Homo sapiens: one gene and its partners. The protein of the gene in region 3 interacts with the protein of the main gene of each other region in a biochemical or structural test. Each region holds a gene or a part of one and is shown on either strand. Other genes may lie near its edges. The genes, in order: MTPN, DPF3, NFKB1, IRF2, STAT3, HDAC5 and NFKBIE.

Region 1 (3,500 bases), on a different chromosome or scaffold from region 3:
ATGTCAGCTTGTATAAGATACAGGTGCCCTCAGTAGACAGAGAAACATTAGTATAGATTCTTTTCTAATTATTAATGCTTTTAGTCATTTTAAAAAATATATAAAATAGAGGAAGATCTTTTTTTACATTGGAACATAAATGTTCATTCAGATGTACATAGGCTATATAAAGTGTTTTGGTTTGAGATTCTAAACATTTTCCTTTTATTAGTGCAGATAATTAAAAATTTAATGAATTAAAACTGATAGAAATTATAACAATATTATGAGCTTGTTATTTAAAAAAGCAAAGCTGTATTGAATAAAGTAAAATATCCCATTGACTATTTTTCCTACCTATGTGGTTCCTCTCTTTAAAATATAAAATTGATTAGGTGTTTTTAAAACAGAAAAGAATAAAGAAGACAAAAATTGGCCAAAATTTTACTATTTAGATAACTCCTAACTTTTAAAAAGTAAAATTAAATTAATTCAGATGTGGATTTTAAAATGCCACAGTTAGGACTGAAAGGTAAAGATCTCCCCTCCCCAATGCCTGTGAACAAATCAGCCATTCTCAACAGGTCCATGTAATTAATTTCAGAAAAACATTGAAAATTTACTTACTCATCTGTTTTTCCCGCTTAAAAAGTTCTGTAAACACTTCTGCACTTTGCTTTCCACATTGAAATGTATTTATTCTTCCCTTTTTAAATGGTGAATAGTATTCCATTTTCTGGATGTTTATTTAACTATTCCCGTATGATAAACATTTTGTTTCCAGTGCATCTTTGCAATTAAACAGGATTGTCGTGATCACCTTTGTACATATACCTTGACAACTTTTGAGACTATATCTGCATTACTCTCTTCATGAGTTTCGTCAGCTTAGGCACACATTGGCAGACATGAGACCGATGGTTCCCTCACACCATCAACAGCACTGGGCATCATCAGACTTTTTAGATTTTGCCATTTGGATAGGTGAAAAATGATTGTTTATGTCTTTTGTTTATTTTTCTTTTAGTTGGTCTGTTTTTTATTGGTTTGTATAAACTCTATAAATTAGGGAAATCAGTTTTTTATCATGTTTTGCAAATATCGTTCCCAGTTAATCTCTTGACTTCATTTATTTTCTTATTCTACAATGGTCTTTTACTTTTTGTGGGGTTAAATGTATCGCTTTTTTTCTCTTTTGTGACTTGGATTTTGTATCCTGTTTACAAAGACCTTTTCTCTTCTGTAAAATTACAAATAAATTTGCTCTTCTGGAACTTCATTTTTTCTTCCATTTTGGACATTTGACCTTTCCATTATTTATTTTGAAGTAAGGCATGAAATAAGTGTATACTTTTTTTTTGACAGTTCTCATACCATTTATTATTATAGTTCCTCTTTTTTTTTTTGCACGTTAAGTGGTATATATTATAACAGATATTAGGAAAATGCAAATTAAATCCACAATGAGATACTACATTATAACTATTAGAATGGCTAAATTGGTAAGACTGAGAAGCTCTAAGGTGAAATGTTCAATAAATCATATTTAAAACTTCTTATCTGTATTAAGTAAATATTATTTTGTTTAATATTTTTTCTAGTAATTTCTGACATTCTTTTTTTTTTCTTTTTTTTTTTTTTTATTATACTTTAAGTTTTAGGGTACATGTGCACATTGTGCAGGTTAGTTGCATATGTATACATGTGCCATGCTGGTGCGCTGCACCCACTAACTCGTCATCTAGCATTAGGTATATCTCCCAATGCTATCCCTCCCTCCTCCCCCCCCCCCACCCCACAACAGTCCCCAGAGTGTGATAATCCCCATCGCAAGAACAAAAAACCAAACACCACATATTCTCACTCATAGGTGGGAATTGAACAATGTAGTTCCTCTTTACTAATAATTTGAACCATCATCTTTATCATAAACAGATTTCTTGCTCTTTTTCTATCTATACCAAACTGATTTAATGATGTGTGGTTTCAAAATAGGTTTTAGTATCTCCCTCTCACATTCTCTTTAGGATTTTTGCAGGTGATTCCTTAAAATTTTTTTTCCCATAATCTCAAGAAAAATATTAGGATGATTTGAACCTACCTAAAACTTAACCTGTATCTTTTAATAAGCATTAAGCTTTTTTTTTTTTTTTCTGGAATGCTGGGATCGTGTGATCTGTGGGACATAATACTTTAACTTTTAATTCTTTATGAATCATCTTAGGAGGATGTCATGCACTGTGAGAATGTGCCATATCAAAGATTCAAAACAGAGGAAGTGTGTTTAGATAATCAAATCACAGCAAAATTGGTGATGAAAGTTAGTTTATGGTATTACATCACAGGCCACCTTGTAATAAGAAAAATGGCTGAAAGTAATTTTTTTGCAGCTATATCTTTACTAAATAATTCTGATAAGCTTAGAAGCTTGATTTTTTTTTTCAGTCCACAGAAAATTACCAGTGTAAAGAGGAGCTGTGATTACTGAAAGAAAAGAAACCAAAATGTAAGAAGCTGACCCAAGAAAGTGAAGGGCAAAGAGCCATATTTACCTTAAAGTTTCAGAGGCCTCAGGCAATAATTAATATGTATAAGCGTAACCTTGAGCTTCACGAAAAGTTTAAACTTGGTTACTTTTCTCTTATTTACAAAGTCAGAGACATGTATAACATATTTTAGGAAGATTTCAATTTGACATATAAAAAAGAATGAGCATTTTGATACTTAGGCCTAAAGTAAGTATCTGAAAAATACTGAAAAATGGAGGTATTAAAAAAAAATTGTAGGCCAGGCATGATGACTCATGTCTGTAATCCCAGCATTTTGGGAGGCCAAGGCAGGAGGATCTATCACTTGAGCCCAGGAGTTCAAGACCAGCCTGGGCAACATAGCAAGACTTCCATCTCAACCACAAAAAAATTGTAGGTAGTAAACACTTTAAACATAGTACAATAGACGCTCATTATGGCACTGTCCTTTAGGGATTTGGAATTGCATTATTGGTGAAACCATAGCATAGAGGCTAAATGTGTTGGCTTTGGAATTAGATCTTCCAGGTCTGGCCTTCTTACTAACTAGACACTTTGGGTGAATTAAGCACTCAGAACTTGAGTTTCTTCAATTGGTGAAAATGGGAATGATTGTAATACCTACATAATAAGTGTAAACTGTGTACCATTGTGCCTGGCATATGGTGAGTGCTAGTAAATATTAGCTGTTGTTACTAATCAGCATCCTCATAAATTTGTTTAGAAGCAAGATTACTTACAGAGCAACTAGTCCAGCTCCCTTATTTTATAGATAAGGAAAAATTAAGTGTGAAAGCCCTTGACCAGTATCATAGTGCTATTTGAGATTGAAATTTAAATTCAGTTTTCCTGAACTTGGATGAGGGTTGGTTGGTTGGTTTTCCGCTACACCATTGTGTTTGCTAATGAAGTCATCTTGTGCTAGCTGTTACCTCTAATAAATTATTCTTTTTGTCCCACAACATCTGCTTGGCAAATTTCTTCTTCTTCCTG
Region 2 (3,500 bases), on a different chromosome or scaffold from region 3:
CAGTTTAGAAAGATCTTACTAGCTGCTATGTAAGAGTAGATACCCAGTGGGGGAGAGGTTCATTCAAGAGGCCCGGGGACCAGTTAGGAAGCTGCTATAGCTATCCAGGTGCGTGATGATGGTGGCCTGAATTACAATTGCGGCATGGAGAAAGAAATGGGTCTTGCTCCCATTTAAGCATCATTGATTAGATGGGGAGAGTGATAGGGAAGAAGCCAAGGATGCCGTCTGGGTTGTGGCTTGGTCAGCAAGCCAGATGATACAGCCACCCAATGGGACATGGGAGGAAGAGCAGACTCATGGGAGGGAGAGGGCAACCTCAGCTATAGACATGTTCTACAGATAGGGATGACCTGGAGGCTGTTGAAGAGAGCAGGAGAGAAGTCTGGGCCTGAGATATGGACTTGGGATTCATTGTAATTAGATGGCAAGTGAAGGTCCTAGGAGAGGAAGCCCAGAATGTGTGAGAGCAAATGTCTTTGACCTTGTCTTCATGGAGAAGTGTCCATGAACCCCTTGAAATGATACACACAATTTTGTACATAGGTAGAAATGTACATTTTTCTATGGAAAGAGTAAGTCCGTAGCTTTCATTGAATTCTCTGAAAGATCAAGGACCCAAAAGAGTTTACTGAGAAGAAGGCCAAGAGTTTACTGAGAAGAAGTACACTTGGGGTACTCCAACTTTACAGGACAGGCAGAGAAAAAAAGACTGAAAAGGAACAGTCAGAGAGGTGGGATGAAGACGAGCACACTGTAGTTTACGCCAAAACAGTTACATCATTATTGCAGAGCCAGCATAAGCTACAGGACAATTTGATTTAGGGATAATACAAGGAGAAACAAGTTAGGATGGAGACAGAAAACAGACAGGACTTGTCAGAAACAGTGTTATTAATGCCTTAAAAACAGTAATAACCCCTACTACAGCAGTGACATGGGAAATACAAATAGGTAGAATATCCTGGATTACAATTTCCCAAAGGAAAACTAGGCATCTGAGAGTTTAAGTGCATTTTGCATGGGTTGACCACTGTCTAGCACCATATTCTCTTCTCTTCCACCACCAAGAGCCCCCAGCTTATGCTAACTCTCATGACAAACACAATTTTAGTACCTCTCACTACCAACTATCCAGGAACCAGGAATCACCTATTACTACAGTTCCAGCAGAATGGGAATCCCATTCTCGGATATCCAGGGTAAATCCCTGACCATGTGAGAGGAATCCTAGTGCCCCAACAACCTCACCCCCTGACTCCTCCTCAAAGGCTCTGCCAAGTCAACAAAAAAATCCTCTACATTTACACTATCTGTAAAGCCAAAGACCAGCGTCAACCTAAATGTCCATCAATAAGGGAATGGTTGGATAAGTAAAAATTATGCAGCTGTAGGAAGGAATGAAGAATGTCTATATATTCCTCCAGATTAATCTCTAAGATATTCAGAGAAAACAAGCAAGATGGAGAAAACATATATACTTGTTACCATTTTTCATGGATTCATATATACACACACATGTTTACATTTAAACAAAATGGAAAGACAAATCATATTTTTTAGTGGTTGCCTATATGCAGAGTGAAGGAATAGTGTGGAAGAGGTAAGTAGAGAGCTACATTTCTTTGAATATAATGTTTCTTTATAAATTTGATTTTAGAACCAATAAATATTTTACACAGTCATAAAACAAAATTTAAATAGCAATATGTCCCTAAAAAAAACAAAAGAAAAATGAGGCAAATGAATTTGGTTATGTATCCAATTGGTAGCATAACCACACAGAGAGAAACTATTCCATCTGACTATAAAACAATTAATTTGACAATACATCCTTAGTAGGACATACCTTAAGGTCATACATAAATGCAGATCTGCATATATATGTGTGTGTGTGTGTAATGTTCAGCAATTATATTATTGGTTTAAATATTGGAATCAATATTCTGAGACTGCTTTATGTGCATCAAATGAGTAATTATGTTGGTATTATTGAAGAGCAAGATTTTGTAACATGGTTGAAAGAAAATAGAAATGTAGGCCAATGAAGTTAAGTCAAAAGTCAGTAGTTGGTTCTAAGTATGAACTGGATGCATCAGTATAAATTCATGGTGTAGTGTATCTTTAAAACAAGCAAAAAATATTTTCTACCTCTGTCCACAGAAAGTGCTCCAAAACAATGACTAACAGCAAAATTAGCACCTCTAGCACCCATATTATGTTCTCTAAAGACCATTGCCCACTAAAAGGAATTAGGAGTCCTGGGAGAAATAAGTGATTCCAGGTCTGGAGCATAAAATGTATAAATATATTTACATATTACAAAGTAAGGAAGCTATCAAATACTATTAGGATTATGTCAAAAGGACTCAGGATCCAACCTGAATATGTTACCACTGGTCAAAGATGGGACAATTTTACCTATAATGGATTATAACAAATAAAATATGTTTAAAATCTTAAGTTCATAAACATATTTTTTAAAACCTTAGTCACCTTCAGAAGATGCTAGAGAAACATCACACTATATTTTTATTTATTTATTTGAAATAATTTTAAACTTAGAGAAAAGTGCAGAAATTATGCAGAGAATTGTACTCACTGTGCCCTAATATTAACATATTATATTACTATAGCAGAATTACGAAAATCAGAAAATTACCATTGGTGTAATACTGTTAACTAATCTACAGACTTTATTTTAATTTCTCCAGTTTTCCCACCTATGTCTCTTTTTTTTTTTTTTTTTTTTTCTGAGACAGAGTCTCACTCTGTTGCCCAAACTGGAGTGCAGTGGTGCCATCTCGGCTCACTGCAGCCTCCTTCTCCCGGGCTCAAGCAATTCTCCTGCCTCAGCGTCCTGAGTAACTGGGATTACAGGCATGTGCCACCATGCCTGGCTAATTTTTGTATTTTTAGTAGAGACAGGGCTTCACCAAGTTGGCCAGGCTGTTCTCCAGCGCCTGACCTCAGGTAATCCGCCCGCCTCAGCCTCCCAAAGTGCTGGGATTACAGGCGTGAGCCACCACGCCCGGCCCCCAACCTATGTCTCTTTACCAGGGATCCAATCCAAGATCCCTCATTGCATTTAATTGTTGTGTTTTCTCAGTATCCTTCAATCTGTGACAGTTCCTCAGTTTCTTTGTCTTTCATGAGCTTGACACTTTCAAAAAATCCAAGCCAGTGATTTTGTAAATGTCACTCAATTTCAGTTGGATCTTTTCTCATGATAAGATCCACATATGCATACATTTTTTAGCAAGAATACCACTAAAGTAATGTTGTGCCCTTCTTGGCGCATCATATCGGGGGAAATTGAGGCCAGTACGTCTTATTACTTGTAATGTTATCTGTGATTATATAGTTAAGGTAGTGTCTGCCATTTTTTTCACTGTAAAGTTACTGTTTTTCCCTTTGTAATATACTAATAAGTAATATTGTTGGGGAGATACTTGGAGATTATCTCCTCAACAAGAGAAATAGGATATTTGAGATTATGT
Region 3 (3,500 bases):
CGGGGTTTCACCATGTTAGCCAGGATGATCTCGATCTCCTGATCTCATGATCCGCCTGCCTCGGCCTCCCAAAGTGCTGGGATTATAGGTGTGAGCCACCGCACCCAGCCTAAAGCACATTTTAAAGAATGGAAATAAAAATAAGAAAATAGATATTTTAATTTCCTTTAAAGAAAATGAAGTTTTAATTAATTTTCTTTAAAATAATAAAAGCATTTTCCTTTAAAGTGAGGAAATAGAAATGATTCACATCACTGCTATAAAAACTGAGAGAGCAGGAACAAATATCTTTACTAAGTAAATAATTACACAGGATTTTGGCCATAGTTTTGGAGTGAGAGATACACGTGAACCAGCAAACCATCTCTCCAAGGAGGATGAGGAAGATGCTTCGGGTCGATGAAGGGAAGGAGACAAATGGAAAGGTAAGAAGTGGGCAAGGGCAGGAGCCCCATACAGCAGACTGGTGGGAGTAGGGGAAAGACAGTGAGGTGGGAAAAGCAATCAGGGGCAGGAAGGAGGAAACCTCAGGAGCCGAACCCCATCTTGGTTTCATGCCAGTGCAGTCGCTCAGCCAGAAAGGCTGGCTGGGGTCACTGGGCTCCCATCACCAACGTCCAAGCTCTGCTTCTGCCGAAGTGGCTCCCAGGCTCCTTGCCTCTCCCTGAATTCTGCATATGCCCATCAAAGGGCCTCGCTGTGTCTCCAGCTAACTCTCCCTTTGCAGTGTTGGAAGACCTCTGGAAAAAACAGTTCCTCAACTTGTATTTTCAGCCCACCTAATTAATTCCTAAGAAAACCTGATTTGGGCAAAACTCTGGTGTTCCCACTTTTCCTCACTTGGAGCTGTCTTTCTGCTTTTGAAAGACACCTTTTCCTCCTCAAGCAAACTTTTAACCTTTCTGTGTGGTGATTTCAGAATGCTTCATTTGATATACATTTAATCTGGATGTTGTCAAGGTATGTTTCAGTAGACTTCAAAATTATTATAAATTACTGGCTTTTCAAACTTTTTTTAACTTTATTTTTCTTGACAGATGTGACATTTTTACTTTAGTTTCTCCCTCTTAAATGAAAAAACTGTTTGATTTCTAAAGTTTAAAGTTTGCCTTCCCCCAGCGGGATGCTGAATTTCATTGTGGCTTGATGGCTGTTATACCCACAGATCAAAGGATCCTACATCATAAAGTAACATTCTCAACTAATGGGATTTTAGATATTACCTACAAAGGTTTGTTTTTGTTTTTGCTACTGTTAACATTACTAAAAATAACATGCACCCAAACATAACAGAAGAAAAAGTAAACTACAGATTTTTCTTCAGTTGTTTTCTTGAGATTTCTGCTTACCTGGTACAGATCATTTCTCATGTTGATAATGTCATCAGAAATCAAACCAGATGTGACTTCTAGTAGATCCCTCACAAGTTGAGAATGAAGGTGGATGATTGCTAAGTGTAAGACACTGGAATGAAAACACAGTGGCAATAATTAACTAAAATGTTAATGAAAAAGAAAAGATTCCCAAGATGTGATTAGACTCAAGAATGGAATCTGCTCTCATACCTAGTTTTATTTGGCCCTAAAATGTTTTGAATCTATAAAATGCATTGAATCTGAGGTGGGATGCTGTCTCCAGAGGACTGGTCCCTCCCAACTGCCTACCCAAGGCTGCTACGTTATTTGTGGTACCTTCCTGGCCTCTGGGAGCATTCAGGTCTTGACCCCTTGATGTATAAACACACTGAGGCTTCCAGCCCAGAAAGACCTAAGCTTAAATCCCAATCCTGCCTCTATACCATGGCTTTGGGCGGTTTTCTTCTCTACCTTTCCCCCTGACTTTTCCTGACACACAGATTCTATGTAAAATGAATGCCTGGCACTAGGAATTGTTCAGAAAAACTTAGTTACCTCACTTAGCCCTGCTGCCCTCCTCCAAAATACAGTGTGGTGGTTTTTTAAAGATCTTTCCAGATCCCAAGAGTGGAGAATGGAGTGAAGCTTTTAACTACTGGAAGAAAATTCTTGCAGTAAACTTGTGAAGAAACAAAGTGATTGTATTTCCCACCACTCCTGCAAACATTCCAGCAAATATTCCCTCTGCCTGGAATGTTTTTGCTCCTTTCTTCTGCCTGAACAATGCCTACTCCATCCTTTATATTCCAGTTCAAACCTGACATCCTCAGAGAATACTTTCCTAACCTCCTAGGTGGAGCAAGTTGTCCCTCTCAAATTTACTGCTTGGTTATGCAACTGCAGTTTTCTACACATTTTTCTCGTTCTCTGTCCTGTCATCTCTGGGGCAGGTTCTGTCTGAGTCAGCCTTACAACCCTAGCATGCAGTAGAGGCACAAAAATAAGAATGATAGAAGGAACTTAAGAGCTTACGCTAATGAGGCTGAACATACTGGTGGTGTCAAAGTCACTCACAGGAGCGTAATTCTTTTAATTATTAAAAAACATACTATTAAAATTCAAAACAATAACAATAACAATCATTTTACCAGTGGCTACTATTTGTTGGGAGCTTTGATTTACCAGACTATGCTAAGCATTTGATATATATTGTCTTTTTACTATAACAATAATCCTATGAGTTAGGTAATATTATCTTCACTTTTCAGCTAATGAAACTGAGACTTGCAGGCGTCATATAACTCAGTCAAGGCCAATACGTGGTGAAGCTGGGATTCAAGCCCAGGCCTGTCTTACTCCAAAGCCATCTCTTAATCCCTTAAGCAATCCTGCATAGGGGATACATGTGCACTGTTCTAAAGACATTCAGATGAATGTCTAAGAAGATGACCACTCCAGAGCATGGACAGATTGAGGTGCAGAGCACACTAAAGCATCTCGCAGCAGCACTACATCTGGGACACGAGGTACAGGCTGGATCTTCTCTAAAATAAGCTATCAGGTGCCACTTTACTCAAGCCTCTTCCTTAGCAATAGCAAGTATATCGTACTTGGGATTAACTCCGGCACAGAAGAGCCTAAAAAACTAAATTGTGATTTTGCTACTTGAGAAATATTTTAAAACGGATGATCTCAGGGTTTCACTATTGCTTCTTGAAATGTGATACTGGAAGAAGACTTCTGAAAAGGGCCTAAACTCTGACATAGACATGATGCACATACACCAAGAAAAAGGTCATACTTCTAAAACTGCTCGAAAATTTCCATGTGCCGCTCAGCATTTCATAGCAGAAGTACATTCCCCCTCCCCCTCAAATCCTCACACCCTTATGGGAATTTCCCCAATAGCAGAAGTTTTATATATTTTTCTTTATTATATTTTCTATGATGACTAATGGCCACAGGATTTAAACTATTAGCCAAATATGACGAGCTGAATTAAAACAAGAGACTTGGGCTGTGATGGCCAAAAGCTGCCCTATACCTATGCTCTTATGAGGATCCTCTGGTCTCTCCAAGTCCCAAATCTGTGGCCTCTCTGAGAGCCGGCTTGTGTGAGTGTGCTTGGGTCTTAGGAGGGAACTT
Region 4 (3,500 bases), about 82 Mb from region 3:
CATTCATCAGCTGATGGACACTCGGGTTGTTTCCATCTTTTGGCTTTTGAAAGTAGTGCTGCTATGAACGTTTATGTTTTGGTTTGAATGTTGGCTTAGAATTCTTTGGGTATATATCCAGGTGTAAAATTCCTGGATCATCAGGTAATTCTGTGTTTCACTTTCTTGAGGAATGGCCAAACTTTTTCTCCAGAGTGGCTGTACCATTTTGCATTTCCACAGCGATGTGTGAGGATTCCAGTTTCTCCACATCCTCACCAACGTTTGTTATTTGTGTATCTTTTTTTGGAGACATGTCTGTGGGTTAGTCTGTTTCATGTTGCTACAAAGGACTACCTGGGGCTGGGTAATTTATAAAAAAACGAGGCTTCTTTGGGTCAGGGTTCTAGGCTGTACAAGAAGCATGACCTTGGCATCTGCCTCTGTTAAGGCCTCAGGATGGGAGGCAAAGGGCATTACATGGCAAGAGAGGGAGGAAGAGAGAATGGTGCAGGCGACAGGCTGTTTTGAATAATCAGCTCTCACCGGAGCTAATGGAGTGAGAGCTTACTCATTACCACGAGAACGACACCAAGCCATTCTTGAGGGATCCTGCCCCATGACCCAAACACCGTCCACCAGACCCCACCTGCAACACTAGCGATCAAATTTTAACACGAGATTTTGAGGGGACAAACACCTGAACTATTCCAGTCTACTCAGGCCTGTTGCACATTTCAAGAGGGTCCATAGTGTATGTTGCTGGGTTTGGTCAGCGCTTTTGTAGTTGCATGGCTTTTGCGGTTTCTGTGGGACTAGGTTTGGTTGTGTGTGTGTGTATGTGTATGCATGCATGCGTGCAGATGCTTAAAAAGATCTACTTTATCTGTATCAATTTTGTGTCTTGCAAGTTAGATTTCAGATTGTGTCACCCTAGAACTCCTTTGATCTAGAAAAAAGTGCAACAGCAAATTCTTAAGAATCTCGGTGTTTAAGCATAAAGCTTTAGATTCTGGGCATGCACTTCAGGAAAAGCTCTTTCACGAAATGAATTTTCACTTGTATTCATTTTCATGTGAACATCAATAAATGGCATTAAGTGATTTTGCTGTCGATTTTCATCTACATTAAAGCATAAAATGTCACTCAGCCCCTTTCTGATCACTGTCCTTTTGAAATTGGCTAACCCGAAGCCCTCTCTGTGGATGATACAGAATGAACACCGAGGAATTTATGAAAAAGTCTCTCACTTTCAGTTCTCCTTTAATAACTGACTTTTTAGAAGATGGTAGAATTTTCCTTTTAACAGGTTTTGGGAAACTCTCCAATGTTCTGAAATAGTCTTTGTTCTGGCTTTGTGATTGGTTCTGTGGAGAGGCGCTGAATCTCTTTGGGGACAGCTGGGACCCTTTCTGTGTTTCACTATGTGAGACTGAAGTGGTGGAAACTCCCTGCTGACATTTCCTCTCCTTCCTCAGCATCTAGTGCAGGGATCCGCATACCTAGCAATTACCAGAACTGCCTTGAGAGCTTTGAAAGAGTACAACCTCCTGGGCTTTAATCTCCACAGAATCCAGGTCTCAACTGGTCTGTCATAGGACAGGGACTCTTCCAAATCTAAAAGCTGGGAGACAATGAGTGGGTGATTAAGTAATAGCATATGGAGTCGCATGACCTGGGTTTTGAACTTAGACACTTATTATCCTGCAAGTTCCTTGACTAAATAGTTAAAATCTGCTTCTTGGTTTCCTCAGCTATAAAATGGAAATCGTAACATATACCTCACTCAGTAGGCTGTGGGAGGAAGACAAAACTGAGGTCCCTGTGGATGTGGGTAGTCAGATGCACAGTGCCAATGGGACCTTAGTACCTGCCGGTACCGCCACAAGAGCTGCTTGGGCCAGGTTCCTCATCTGTAGCTTTACTAAGAGTACGGCTTTGTTACTAAACCATGGGTTTCCAATCATGTGTTTTTCAGGGTTGCTTGAGGCGGTTTTGAGTTACAGACCTCAACACTGAGAGAGATGTAGAGATAGTCTGATATAAGGATTGTATTGAGGGATGTTTCTCCAGAAAAATGTGTCATTTCATAACCTCTACCTCTTTGTTTGCACTTCTTGCTATTTCTTGCAGGCAGTAGACCCACAGGGATTCGAACATTACTTTCTATTTCTGTTGGATGCACAAGCAAATGGAGATATTTGGTTTCTGTGACAGTGGCCTCAGATGTACCCGACTTTTCTTTAGTAGCATCAAGGGTTTTGGAAACTTGTCTAATTTTTAATTTACCTAAGATAGCTGGAGTTACTATTTACCAAACGACGAGAATAAATTATAAGAGTAAGCATTAGAAGTTTCGGTAGGTGGCCATTTTTCTGTGGTTTTATAAAAAAAAGAGGCACAGGGCCGGGTGTGGTGGCTCACACCTGTAATCTCAGCAGTTTGGAAGCCTGAGGTGGGCAGATCACTTGAGGTCAGGAGTTCGAGACCAGCCTGGCCAGCATGGCAAAACCCCATCTCTACCAAAAATACAAAACTTGGCCAGGCGTGGTGGCACATGCCAGTAATCCTAGCTACTCAGGAGGCTGAGGTGGGAGAATCTCTTGAACCCAGGAGGTGGAGGTTGTAGTGAGCCGATATCGCGCCACTACACTGCAGCCTGGGCAACAGAGCGAGACTCTGTCTCCAAAAAAATATATTGAAAACTAGAAAAGAGGCACAAATAATGGAACACACAAGGTCAAATCATCACCTTTGACCTTGGAAAACATTCCTGCTCTGCAAGACTTCACGAGACTGACTGTCACTCGGGGTAGTCTATCAAGATTTGGGATCCAGCGGGGGAAGTGGGTTTGGTTTACAGTAGATTTTCTTGTCAGCAGTCAACACATTCAGCGATGCTTGCTGGGGAATCTTGCTGGCTAGACCTTCACAACCTTTTGCAATGGTGGGCCAAAACCCATGACTCCAGTTCTTTACCTTTTTTTTTTTTTTTTTTTTCAGGAAAAGAAGATTTTTCAGATCCCCTGGATGCATGCGGCTAGACATGGGTGGGATGTGGAAAAAGATGCACCACTCTTTAGAAACTGGGCAATCCATACAGGTACTAAAACTCCCTGCGGCGTTTATAGAGGAAGGCACTCTTGCTTAGTTTTGTTTTTATTACACATAAAATAGCCTGGCTTATGACCTCATGAAGATGGCTCTGAAAAACCTGTGACTTGTCCCTAGGCACATCCAGGACACATGGGGTACAAACTGCAGCCCTCAGAAGTAATGCTCCCCTCATCCCATACACTCTTAGTCCTTCAATTTCCTATAAATGTGGTATTCTAAGAAGTTCCCTAGGTGTTACCGGGGAATAGAAACTCAGTTGTTCTGATGCTATAAACTTTGGTCAAATTTATCTCCCCCCCAAAAAGGTAGTCAGAAATACCTGTATTTATTACAACCTTTACGTAGGGAGCTGTTTACAGGAATGGACTTTGTTGGAGCGTCAGATGAAAAAGAGGCACTCAGCT
Region 5 (3,500 bases), on a different chromosome or scaffold from region 3:
CACCAAGTCGGCAAGGATGGTCTTGAACTCCTGACCTCAAGCAATCCACATGCCTTGGTCTCCCAAAGTGCTGGGATTACAGGCGTGAGCCATCGCTCCCGGCCTCCTAATTATGTTTCATTTTGGTTAATGTTTCAATAAATGTGCTTTCCCTAAACATACTGATGAAAAGAGGCCCAAATGCAAAACTGATTTGTCGAGAAAGTCAGTCTGAGATGAAATATTTATTATGTCTAAACCACAAGTAGAAAAAAATTCAAAGGCCGACTATTTCAATGCTAACTCAATGCAATATTGCACTTTGTTTGGTTTACGGGAGAGGTAATTTACACAGCTAACATTTGGGTTTTCAAGATTACATTGTGGGGAGAGAAGGGGAAAACAAGAAAAGTCTAATGCTTTTAGATTCTGTCAGAAAAAGTGTTTGCTAAAAAGCAAAACAAAATGAACATGAGAAAAAATGTGAAAAAACATGCATTTTAGGAAGCTTTCACCGAAGCAGGTGCTCAAGTTCAGACTCAAATCTTCCAACTCTTGTAATAAAAATGAGAGGTCAGAATACCACAAACTAATCAAATCAATCAAACAAAGCGGGAAACAGGTGGCTGACACCAGACTGGGCAGGGTTTTCCTAAATTGGGCTTACCTTCACTAATCCAAATCAGTTTTCAGAAATGGCTTCTACAAAAACTACCCAAACATCCCCCTAATAATTTGCACTCCTCCTCCACAATAGGGAAGCCAAGCCGTTTATTTCCCAGAAGGTTTACTTTCTCTTTCAAGCTCTGCTGGCTTCTTCCTGCCCCGCATACGGCCAGGAAAAAAGAAAAGCACTGCCTTTTCTTTCCTGCCTTCTCTAAAACTGGGGAGATGGGGTGAGAGAACCTGTTTCATGGACAAGCTGGGTGGTTCTTAACTGCAACACTGTTCTGAATACAGATTAGTTTGCAAAGGAAAGTTACAGGACAGGAAAATAAAGGTCTACCCCTCCAACTAACTCATACACATGTACATTTGCATGTACGCACACACACAGATGTGAGGGCACATTTAATTCAGCTGAGTAATGTGCAGCAATCAGCTCCCAGCTTCATACCTGGCCACCGGGATGCCTCCTCACTCCCACCTTCTTTACCTGACTCAAAATAAGGTTCCTCCTGTTGGCTTCTTCCTGAGACACAACCAACTCTAATCATTCCTCTTCCCCTCAAACCTTCAACACTACCTGCACTTTCTGGGTCGGGAGCAATTCCTTGGGTGGTAATCCATTTTTAATGTGTTAAATATTACTTAAAATAAGGGAGAGGTAATCATGGACTGTGGGCAATGCAGAGATTTATCAGAAGGGCATTTGTGTAAACAGGAATTTACAGTTTGCCTTACCTATTCCTTTTATATGACAGCCTCAATTTCCTCTAACAGAATGTAAGTCCCCCATCCCTATTCATTTAGTTTTTTTCCCATTAGGTTAGAATCTGCTAATTATTCTTTCTCTCCTTTGGGTCATTAGTGGCTGCCATGAATCATAATTTGCCTGACTTTGTAATATCTAACAGATATTACCATTTTAGTTTAGTTTTTGATATGACAGTTTTTTGTTTTTTGTTTTTGTGACGGAGTCTTGCTCTGTCTCCCAGGCTGGAGTGCAGCGGCGCGATCTCAGCTCACTGCAACCCCCACCTCCTGGGTTCAAAAGCAATTCTCCTGCCTCAGCCTCCCGGGTAGCTGGGACTACAGGCACCCGCCACCACAACAGGCTAAATTTTATATTTTTAGTAGAGACGGGGTCTCACTATGTTGGGCAGGCTGGTCTTGAACTCCTGACCCGCCTCGGCCTCCCAAAGTGCTGGAATTACAGGCGTGAGCCACCATGCCCGACCTCCTAATTATGTTTTATTCCACCTGCCCCTATGTATAAGCGTTACCACCCTAATTATGCTTTTTGTTTTTCGGTTTTTTTGAGACAGAGTCTCACTCTGTCACCCAGGCTGTAGTGCAGTGGCACGATCTCGGTTCACCGCAACCTCCGCCTCCCGGGTTCAAGCGATTATCCTGCCTCAGCCTCCCGAGTAGCTGGGATTACAGGTGCCCACCACCACAACTGGCTAATTTTTATATTTTTAGTAGAGACGGGGGGGGTCTCACTCTGTTGGGCAGGCTGGTCTTGAACTCCTGACCTCAGGTGATCCACCCGCCTTGGCCTCCCAAAGTGCTGGGATTACAGGCGTGAGCCACCGCACTCGGCCTGATATTATAGTTTTTAATAAGAGTAATTCAGCCTAGGCAACGTGACGAGATCCTGACTCAAAAAAATTAGAAAATTAGCTGAGGGTGGTAGCACACACCTGTAGCCCCAGCTACCCCGAAGGCTGAGGCAGGAGGATCACTTGAGCCTAGGAGGTCAAGGCTGTCATGAGCTGTGATCTCACCGCTGCACTCCAGCCTAGGTGACAGAGTGAGAACCTGTCTCAAAAAATAAATAGTAATAATAGTAATTATTAGCACTTGAATGTTACCTGTCTGCCCGGCACTATGCAAAGTACTTGATATGCATCATCTTGCTTCATCCTCTCAATTACTCTACAAGTGGACCTCGTTTCCACAATTGTGGACAGAGAAACTGAAAACCAGAGAAGTGAAAACAACAGGCCCAAGGTCTAAGAGAAGGCAGAACTGGGATTAAAGCCCAATAGGTCTGACCTGATAGTCCACTCTTTTAACTGCTATAGTAACTTTGGACCATGAAACCCTCAAACATACCAACCAAGTGTTTCAAAACTACAATAGCAATCACCTTAGGAATACTCAAAATATAAGTTCTTTGGCTGACGCAGTTAAAAATTCAAAGGTCAGGTAAAATTTCAGTGATGAGCAAGGTCATTTATTCTTATGGCTGGGGGTAGCAGGAAGGAAAGCCGGATCGTCGAAGCATTATTTTCTTGTAGGGGCAGATTTACCTTCCTTATTATTCTTTTGCTAGGCTGTTAAAAGGAATTTGGAAGGCCAGGCGTGCTGGCTCACGCCTGTAATCCCAGCACTTTGGGAGGCCGAGGCAGGCGGATCACAATGTGAGGAGATTGAGACCATCCTGGCTAACACGGTGAAACCCTGTCGCTACTAAAAATATAAAAAAAAAAACATTAGCTGGGCGTGGTGGCGGGCGCCTGTAGTCCCAGCTACTCGGGAGGCTGAGGCAGGAGAGTGGCGTGAACCCGGGAGGCGGAGCTTGCAATGAGCCAAGATAGCGCCACTGCACTCCAGCCTGGGCGACAGAGCGAGACTCCATCTCAAAAAAAAAAAAAAAAAGGAATTTGGAATAAATATGTCTCCAAGATAACCTGGTAAACAGAAAGGGCTGCAAAAAATCTGAATAAAAGCAAGTCAATTAACAGGATACATGTAAAACACACATTTTATATTCCTACAAGTCTTTTTTTTTATAATAGCATGTTATTACTTTTCTAAAAAGGACAAAATAACTTATTTTAATGACATTTAAA
Region 6 (3,500 bases), on a different chromosome or scaffold from region 3:
GGTACATGAGCTTCACCCAGAGCCAGGACTGTCTTCCCCAGACTCACTCTGCCCCTCCCTCAAAGGCTGCACTCTGACCTCCTAGCCCTCTGAATCTGAAGGAGGAAAAGAGCCTAACCCTGGCTCCAGGTTCCATTTCCTGAGCCCAAAGGCTGTGGGGATGGGGGGACCTTGACCAAAGGGAAGAAAGCAAGGTCTGCTTAGTGTGCAGTGAAAAAGCCAATGGCTGGCCCAGGAGCACCCTGGATGAAGTGTGAGATGCCAGCTTCCCTGAGACCCAGATATCAGACCTGCCCACCCTCCTGTTCTTTCCTGCCCTTCGAGCCCAGTCATGCTGGAGCCCATCAGCATGGCCTGGGAGCTGCCATGTGCCAGCCAGGCCCCATGCTAGGTGTTGGCTGAACCCTCTCATTTGAAGCCAAGTCCAGGAAAAATGTGAACACCTACTTTGGCATCTTCTACTTCCCCTCAGGGTTGACCCTGCCTTCTCTGGCCATTCCATTCTAAGCCTTCAATCTCTTTGGAATGATAGAGCAGGGAAGAGGAGGGGAGAAGCAGGTCCCGCTCTGCAGTGAGCACAGAGGTGTGCCAGGGGGCATCTCAGTAGAGAAGGGAGGCCAGGAGTCTACTTCTCAGACCCCAGCCCCATGCCAGGATTGACCCACTTTCTCACTGCCTGCCTTCCCTGGGGGCTCTGAAGGAGGCAGAGCCCAAGGCTGGAAGGCAGGACACCGAGGTTCCTGGCTCCACCCCACACCCATGCCCCAGTTTCTCTGGTCACCCAGAGAGCAGGCGTGGGGGGGGGGGGCTGCTGCCCTCCATCCTGGAAAAGGGAAAGAGAGAAAGTGTGAAGGTTCTGGGAGGCGCTGGGCAGGCAGGTGTTGTCATGAAGCTTGTCTCCCTCCCACACTGGGGAGAAGGATCCTGGCCGCCTCCTCCATGGCCCCGCTGCCACCCAGACTGGCTTGCACAGTGGGCCTCACTCTTGCCTGCTCTTCTGGGCAATGGCACAAAGAGGGTACAACCAGAGCTGGCCTGGGTCCCAGGCCCCTGGGCAGCTCCTCCAACCTGGTTGGGCCGAGTCTGAGCTGAGGGAAAGTTCTGTCAGCCTTTCAGCCCCACTGAGGAGAACATGCAGAAGCAAACAGTTCCAGAAAAATAAAGACAGCCTTAATCCTCAAACCCCCTTTTGCCGGAAGAAAAGGCAGAGATCAGGGAATGGTCTCAGGGAAGCAGGCAACCCCATCAATAGCCTCCGCCTGTGATTCCAAGACTGCAAAAGAGGTAAATAAAGTCAAAGGCTGGTAGGCAGCCCGAGCCAGAGGGAAGTCATCAGCTCCCACCTTCCTGGGCAGTGGGCCCCAGAAGGAAATCACTCACAGTCTCCACCTGCTGCCCCTCACCAAAACAGTCTCTCTTGCTAACATGTTCACTGTGAGGACCAGGGATGGCCCATCTCATATTTTCTTCTGTCTTCCACAGGCTGAGCCTGTTGGTGATACTCAGTGAGGACTTGCCAAACTGAAAAGCTCCTACGCTGAGAGGACTTGAGGGGAACCAGAAGCTCTGCCCCTTACAAAGCCTACTGTCCTTTACTCTGGGGAAAGAGGAGCAAGTGTTCAGGGAAGTGAGGAAAAGGTGGGAGGCGCTCAGGGGCTGCAGCAGACCCTGGGGACTAACCATTTCCTTCCTTCCCACCTCTTATCTCCTGCCCCATGGCCCATACCTTTCCTTCTTGGGGCTCTCTACAGGGAAGTGGACACCCGCGTGCTCTGGCTTCAATCGGTGGTCTCACTTTACTTCCGCCGAGTTCCAAGGCATGTGGTTTCCAGGCTTCTGCCAGGCGCTGGGCACCCCAGCCCTAGCCCAGATGCCAGCCCAAGCTCTGGGAATAGCAGACGCTAGGCCCCTCAGAAAGGAAGAGCTGGGGGGAGGCTGACTATCTCCCTGGCCCAGGGCAGCTGGAACCCCACAACTGGGAAAGCCAGTCCAGAACCCCAGGAACACTCTGCAGGAAGGGCCTCAAGCAAACATCCCCAAGCAGTGGCCCCAGTTCCAAAGCCTCTCAACAATCCTAAAATGAGGTTCCCAATCCCTGGCCCCCTCCTTTTTTCCTTCTTTCCCCAACACAGAGAAGACAGCATCTCCCCCTGCTGGGGGGAGCTGGAAAGCCAGGCAGGACGCGGGGCCCATTCCACAGGCCCACTCAGGACGCCCCTCCTGGCCAGGGCTCAGCAGTGGCTCTCAAGCTGCCAGCCTCCTGCGTTGGTGGACACGTCCAGCTCCTCCAACACTCTTGTCAGCTCCCACAGAGGTAGCTGCAAGGGAAACTTGGACCGCCAGCATCTGGAAAGGTAACCCAATAACTTCATCTATCCTGGGTTGATTATCACATTTCCCTGCAAGGGAAAGAAACCCCAAAGCTGGGAAAAATCCTTTCCAAGCCACCAACAGATGCCGCTAGGCAGCTTCAATTCCCTTGGCCAAGAGTTAGACCCCAGCCCCATGGGAAGCAGGGACTGCAGATGGCTCCTGGACAGGTCAGCGTCACAACTCAGAGGAAAGAAGTAGCTGGCACTACTGCCCGACATGGCTGAGCTTGCTGGGGTAGTGTCCAGCCAAGATGCACGAGGGACAGATGAGGACCCAGGCCTCTCCTTTCCCTTCGCCATCCAGCCTCAGAGGGGCAAGCAAGAGGGCAGAGCTGGGCAGCCCACCTGTCCCAGCCCCTAGGGGCTGAATGAGGGCAAGGGCAGAGGGAGGAATATCTGAAGGAGAACAGCAAACCCTACAGAAAGGATGATGGGGAAGAAAATGTGGGGTGGTCTGGATTCCTCCCTGATGCTGCTTCTGTACAATCCTGCAAATGGGTATTCATCCTAGGCCCCAATTGCCCTATCTCTAAAAGGAGAAATATCCACCTACCCCTACATAAAAAAGATGAGGAGTACGATGGGCCGTGGAGAGCTAAAGTTGAGCAAGATGGACCTTTAACACTGTGTGGAAGGAGACACCCGAGGAGGAGGAGACGACAGCCACTACTCTGACCACACTGCCCCAGGACCCTCCTGGGAAACTGCTGAGGGTCCAGCTCAGGCCACTAGAACACAGCCTCACAGGCATACATCCAGACCCAGCTGCACATCAAGCTGCCTAGAGTCCCCCAAATAGACTATTTCTGGCAGCACTGGACAGGGTCCTAGGAACAAAGAGGAACAGGAAATCTCAGAGTAAAAGACCCCAGATTAGCAATCTACCATATGAAGGGCCCAAGAGGAAGAGAGGCAGTCTACCTGGACTCAGAGGAGAGCCGAGACTCCTCTACACACGTCACCCCACTCCCACCCAATGCCACGCACCTGCACACGGAGGTTAAGGCCCAGTGCCCTTGTAAACCTCCACTAAGAAAAAAGTATGGAACACAAACATTCCACTAAGTAAAGAAGCCACCATCACGAAAAGGAAGCTGAGCATTCTGCTATAGTAAAGAAATTCCTCCA
Region 7 (2,443 bases), on a different chromosome or scaffold from region 3:
GCACAGAGTGGATGAGATGCCCATGAGACCCCGGCCAGCTGCCAGGTGCAGGGGTGTGCACCCGTTCAGCATGCGGGCATCTACCTGGGCACCAGCCTGGAGCAGGAACTGTACCAGGCCCCGCTCTTGGGTTTCCACAGCCAGGTGCAGCGCTGTCTTACCACTGGTGCCCTCCTGGGGAGGAATAAGGATGTCAGCCAAGGCCCTCAGAGGCAGTGTGCTGGGCCTGGGCTCTGGATAAGGAAGTGAATGCCACCACTTCTGACTGCTGGGCAGGGGACTTGGGGATGTGTCAGGTGGGGGCAGGCCCTGGGCCGGGCAGTGCTTTGCTGGCTGTCTCACCTGCACATCAATGTCAGCTCCATTCCGAAGCAGCAATTCCATGAGTGGTTGGTTCTTCTGAAGGGTGGCAATGTGGAGACAAGCCAGACCTGGGATGGGGTGAGAGTGAGGGTGAGGGCTGCTGATCTGCATCCACCAACTCCCTCTCTTCTGGGACCTCCCTACCACTCAGCCCCAAGGGACTCACAGCCCACTCAATGTCTCTAATCACAAGACTGTTAAAATGCAAACCCCAAAACCCCCTCAAAAGTCTAAGGGGAAAGGAACTCAAAGTTTCCACCTTTTCAGAGTCATGTTATTGAAACTTTCATGCTTCAGGGGTCAGGCTGCTGAGTGACACCCCCAAAGAACACCCTCCTCCTATACACAAACTACAACACACACACACACACACACACACACACATACAGACACACACACACACACACACACACACACACAACCTGCCTTCAAGCCCAGTCTGAAAGCCACCTTTTCTGAAAAGCCACCTAAGATCCTCATGCCCCCAGCCCTTTCTCAGGGGCCGCTTCCTTCTGTGCTCCCCTGGCCTTTTTGCTCTCCTTTCTAGTCTGGACACTCCCGACCCTTGCTTAGTAATAGAGATTTCGATTCAAATTTACATTCTTCACCTTCCTCAGGGCGCTATTCAGATGTCACTGGCTCCATGAGGCCTTCCCGGACCACCCTATTTAACAATCATATCAACTCTCCTACTCCCCACATTCCTTCCTCTCACTCTGCTCTGCTTTTTACTACAGCACTTACTTCCTTTTAACATATTACATAGTTCACTTCTTACATTTATTGCTCATCTCAATCTTTCTCTATTTTGCACACAGATGCAAGTGTAGCTCCTAGGATAACGTCTGGCACATAGAAAACCCTCAGTACATTTCTGTTGAATGAATGAATCAGGTCATCTAATCTCTATTAAACTAAGTATCTTAAGGGCAAGATTTAGTTTTCTTCTCAGCAGGCAGTAGGTACTGGTTAAATTCGAAATCAAATCATCCATTCATTCATTTGGCAAAGATGTACTGAATATCTATGTGCTTACAGTGGGAGGGGCACCAATGGACAAGCTGGGACCCTCCCTTCCCCAAGAGTGAGGTCCCTATCTCCTATGCCCTCCTCATCCCACAGGCCCTAAGGGCAGTCTTAAAGACTGTCCACACCTTGCCAGTTTTGCAGCTGGAGGTCCAGAGAGTGAGATGTTCCTCTGCCTGGCTCTGGCCGCCCTTCCAGCAGGCAGCGGGCACAGGCCAAGTGCTGGCGCTGGCAGGCCACATGAAGGGCTGTGTCACCATGCCGGTCCTGTAGTGCCCGGCTGGCCCCCTTCAGCACCAGTGCCCGAACTGCGCCCGGTTGGTCCAGATGTACAGCCAGATGGAGTGCTGTCTGGAGGCACAAATAGAGGGTCATGGGGCCACTGCAGCATGCTCCCACCTCTGGGAACATGCTTGGGCTCAAGAATCACCAGCTGCCAGCATCTTCTTTGAAAGCAGCTTATAAAGGCCATAACCTGTTCTTCCAAGGAAATACTACCGAGCCCTTCCCCTGTCACACCCCTCCCCCACCAAGCTCTTGGGATCCCAATTCTGGAAGCAAGGTGAAGAAAGTAGCTCTCTGCTTTTCTTGTAAGTCACCTTAGGCCCTGGAGAAAGGACATGTAGGAGGAGAGTCTAGCCCCTCACCCTGTGAGGAGACCTCTGTTACCCCCAGGGGTTAGGCTGCAGGAGGAAAGATAGAGGCACCGGGCAGTCTCTCCCTGGCAAAACTCTCTGTTAGGCTCCATTCAGATGGCATCTCCTCTGTAAGCCTTCCCTGGCTGCTGCACACAGACACTGGACCCTATAGCAGCTGGTATGTGTCTCTATCACAACTCTTGTCACCAGGCTGTGTATTTAGCTGTTGATACAAGTCCCCCAGCCCAGGATGCAAGCACCTCAGGACAGAGGCCATGTCTTACTTGGGTCTGTCTCCTCAGTTTCTAGCTCAGTGTCTGGCATATGGTTTCCTAAGTGAGCAGCCTTTGGACTGGTATGGCTGCTGGGAATGGCTGCCAGGGCACAAACAGGTATCTGGGCATAACATTCTCTCG

The links.
Region 1: the proteins of NFKB1 (region 3) and MTPN form a complex in vitro, tested with the Homo sapiens proteins (one study listed by BioGRID).
Region 2: the proteins of NFKB1 (region 3) and DPF3 form a complex in vitro, tested with the Homo sapiens proteins (one study listed by BioGRID).
Region 4: the proteins of NFKB1 (region 3) and IRF2 form a complex in vitro, tested with the Homo sapiens proteins (one study listed by BioGRID).
Region 5: the proteins of NFKB1 (region 3) and STAT3 form a complex in vitro, tested with the Homo sapiens proteins (one study listed by BioGRID).
Region 6: the proteins of NFKB1 (region 3) and HDAC5 form a complex in vitro, tested with the Homo sapiens proteins (one study listed by BioGRID).
Region 7: the proteins of NFKB1 (region 3) and NFKBIE form a complex in vitro, tested with the Homo sapiens proteins (one study listed by BioGRID).

What each region holds. Positions count from the first base shown.
Region 1 is NC_000007.14:135,967,360-135,970,859, reverse strand, and holds part of MTPN (myotrophin), read left to right. Parts: intron 1-3,500. UniProt on the Homo sapiens protein: Promotes dimerization of NF-kappa-B subunits and regulates NF-kappa-B transcription factor activity. Plays a role in the regulation of the growth of actin filaments.
Region 2 is NC_000014.9:72,621,602-72,625,101, forward strand, and holds part of DPF3 (zinc finger protein DPF3), read right to left. Parts: intron 1-3,500. UniProt on the Homo sapiens protein: Belongs to the neuron-specific chromatin remodeling complex (nBAF complex).
Region 3 is NC_000004.12:102,598,859-102,602,358, reverse strand, and holds part of NFKB1 (nuclear factor NF-kappa-B p105 subunit), read right to left. Parts: exon of another isoform or gene 2,624-3,500; intron 1,465-2,623; coding exon 1,350-1,464; intron 715-1,349; exon of another isoform or gene 328-714; intron 1-327.
Region 4 is NC_000004.12:184,419,051-184,422,550, reverse strand, and holds part of IRF2 (interferon regulatory factor 2), read left to right. Parts: intron 1-2,982; coding exon 2,983-3,082; intron 3,083-3,500. UniProt on the Homo sapiens protein: Specifically binds to the upstream regulatory region of type I IFN and IFN-inducible MHC class I genes (the interferon consensus sequence (ICS)) and represses those genes. Also acts as an activator for several genes including H4 and IL7.
Region 5 is NC_000017.11:42,378,443-42,381,942, forward strand, and holds part of STAT3 (signal transducer and activator of transcription 3), read right to left. Parts: intron 1-3,500. UniProt on the Homo sapiens protein: Signal transducer and transcription activator that mediates cellular responses to interleukins, KITLG/SCF, LEP and other growth factors. Once activated, recruits coactivators, such as NCOA1 or MED1, to the promoter region of the target gene.
Region 6 is NC_000017.11:44,113,642-44,117,141, forward strand, and holds part of HDAC5 (histone deacetylase 5), read right to left. Parts: intron 2,355-3,500; exon of another isoform or gene 2,271-2,354; intron 1-2,270. UniProt on the Homo sapiens protein: Responsible for the deacetylation of lysine residues on the N-terminal part of the core histones (H2A, H2B, H3 and H4).
Region 7 is NC_000006.12:44,260,109-44,262,551, forward strand, and holds part of NFKBIE (NF-kappa-B inhibitor epsilon), read right to left. Parts: intron 1,741-2,443; coding exon 1,518-1,740; intron 432-1,517; coding exon 343-431; intron 175-342; coding exon 1-174. UniProt on the Homo sapiens protein: Sequesters NF-kappa-B transcription factor complexes in the cytoplasm, thereby inhibiting their activity. Sequestered complexes include NFKB1-RELA (p50-p65) and NFKB1-REL (p50-c-Rel) complexes.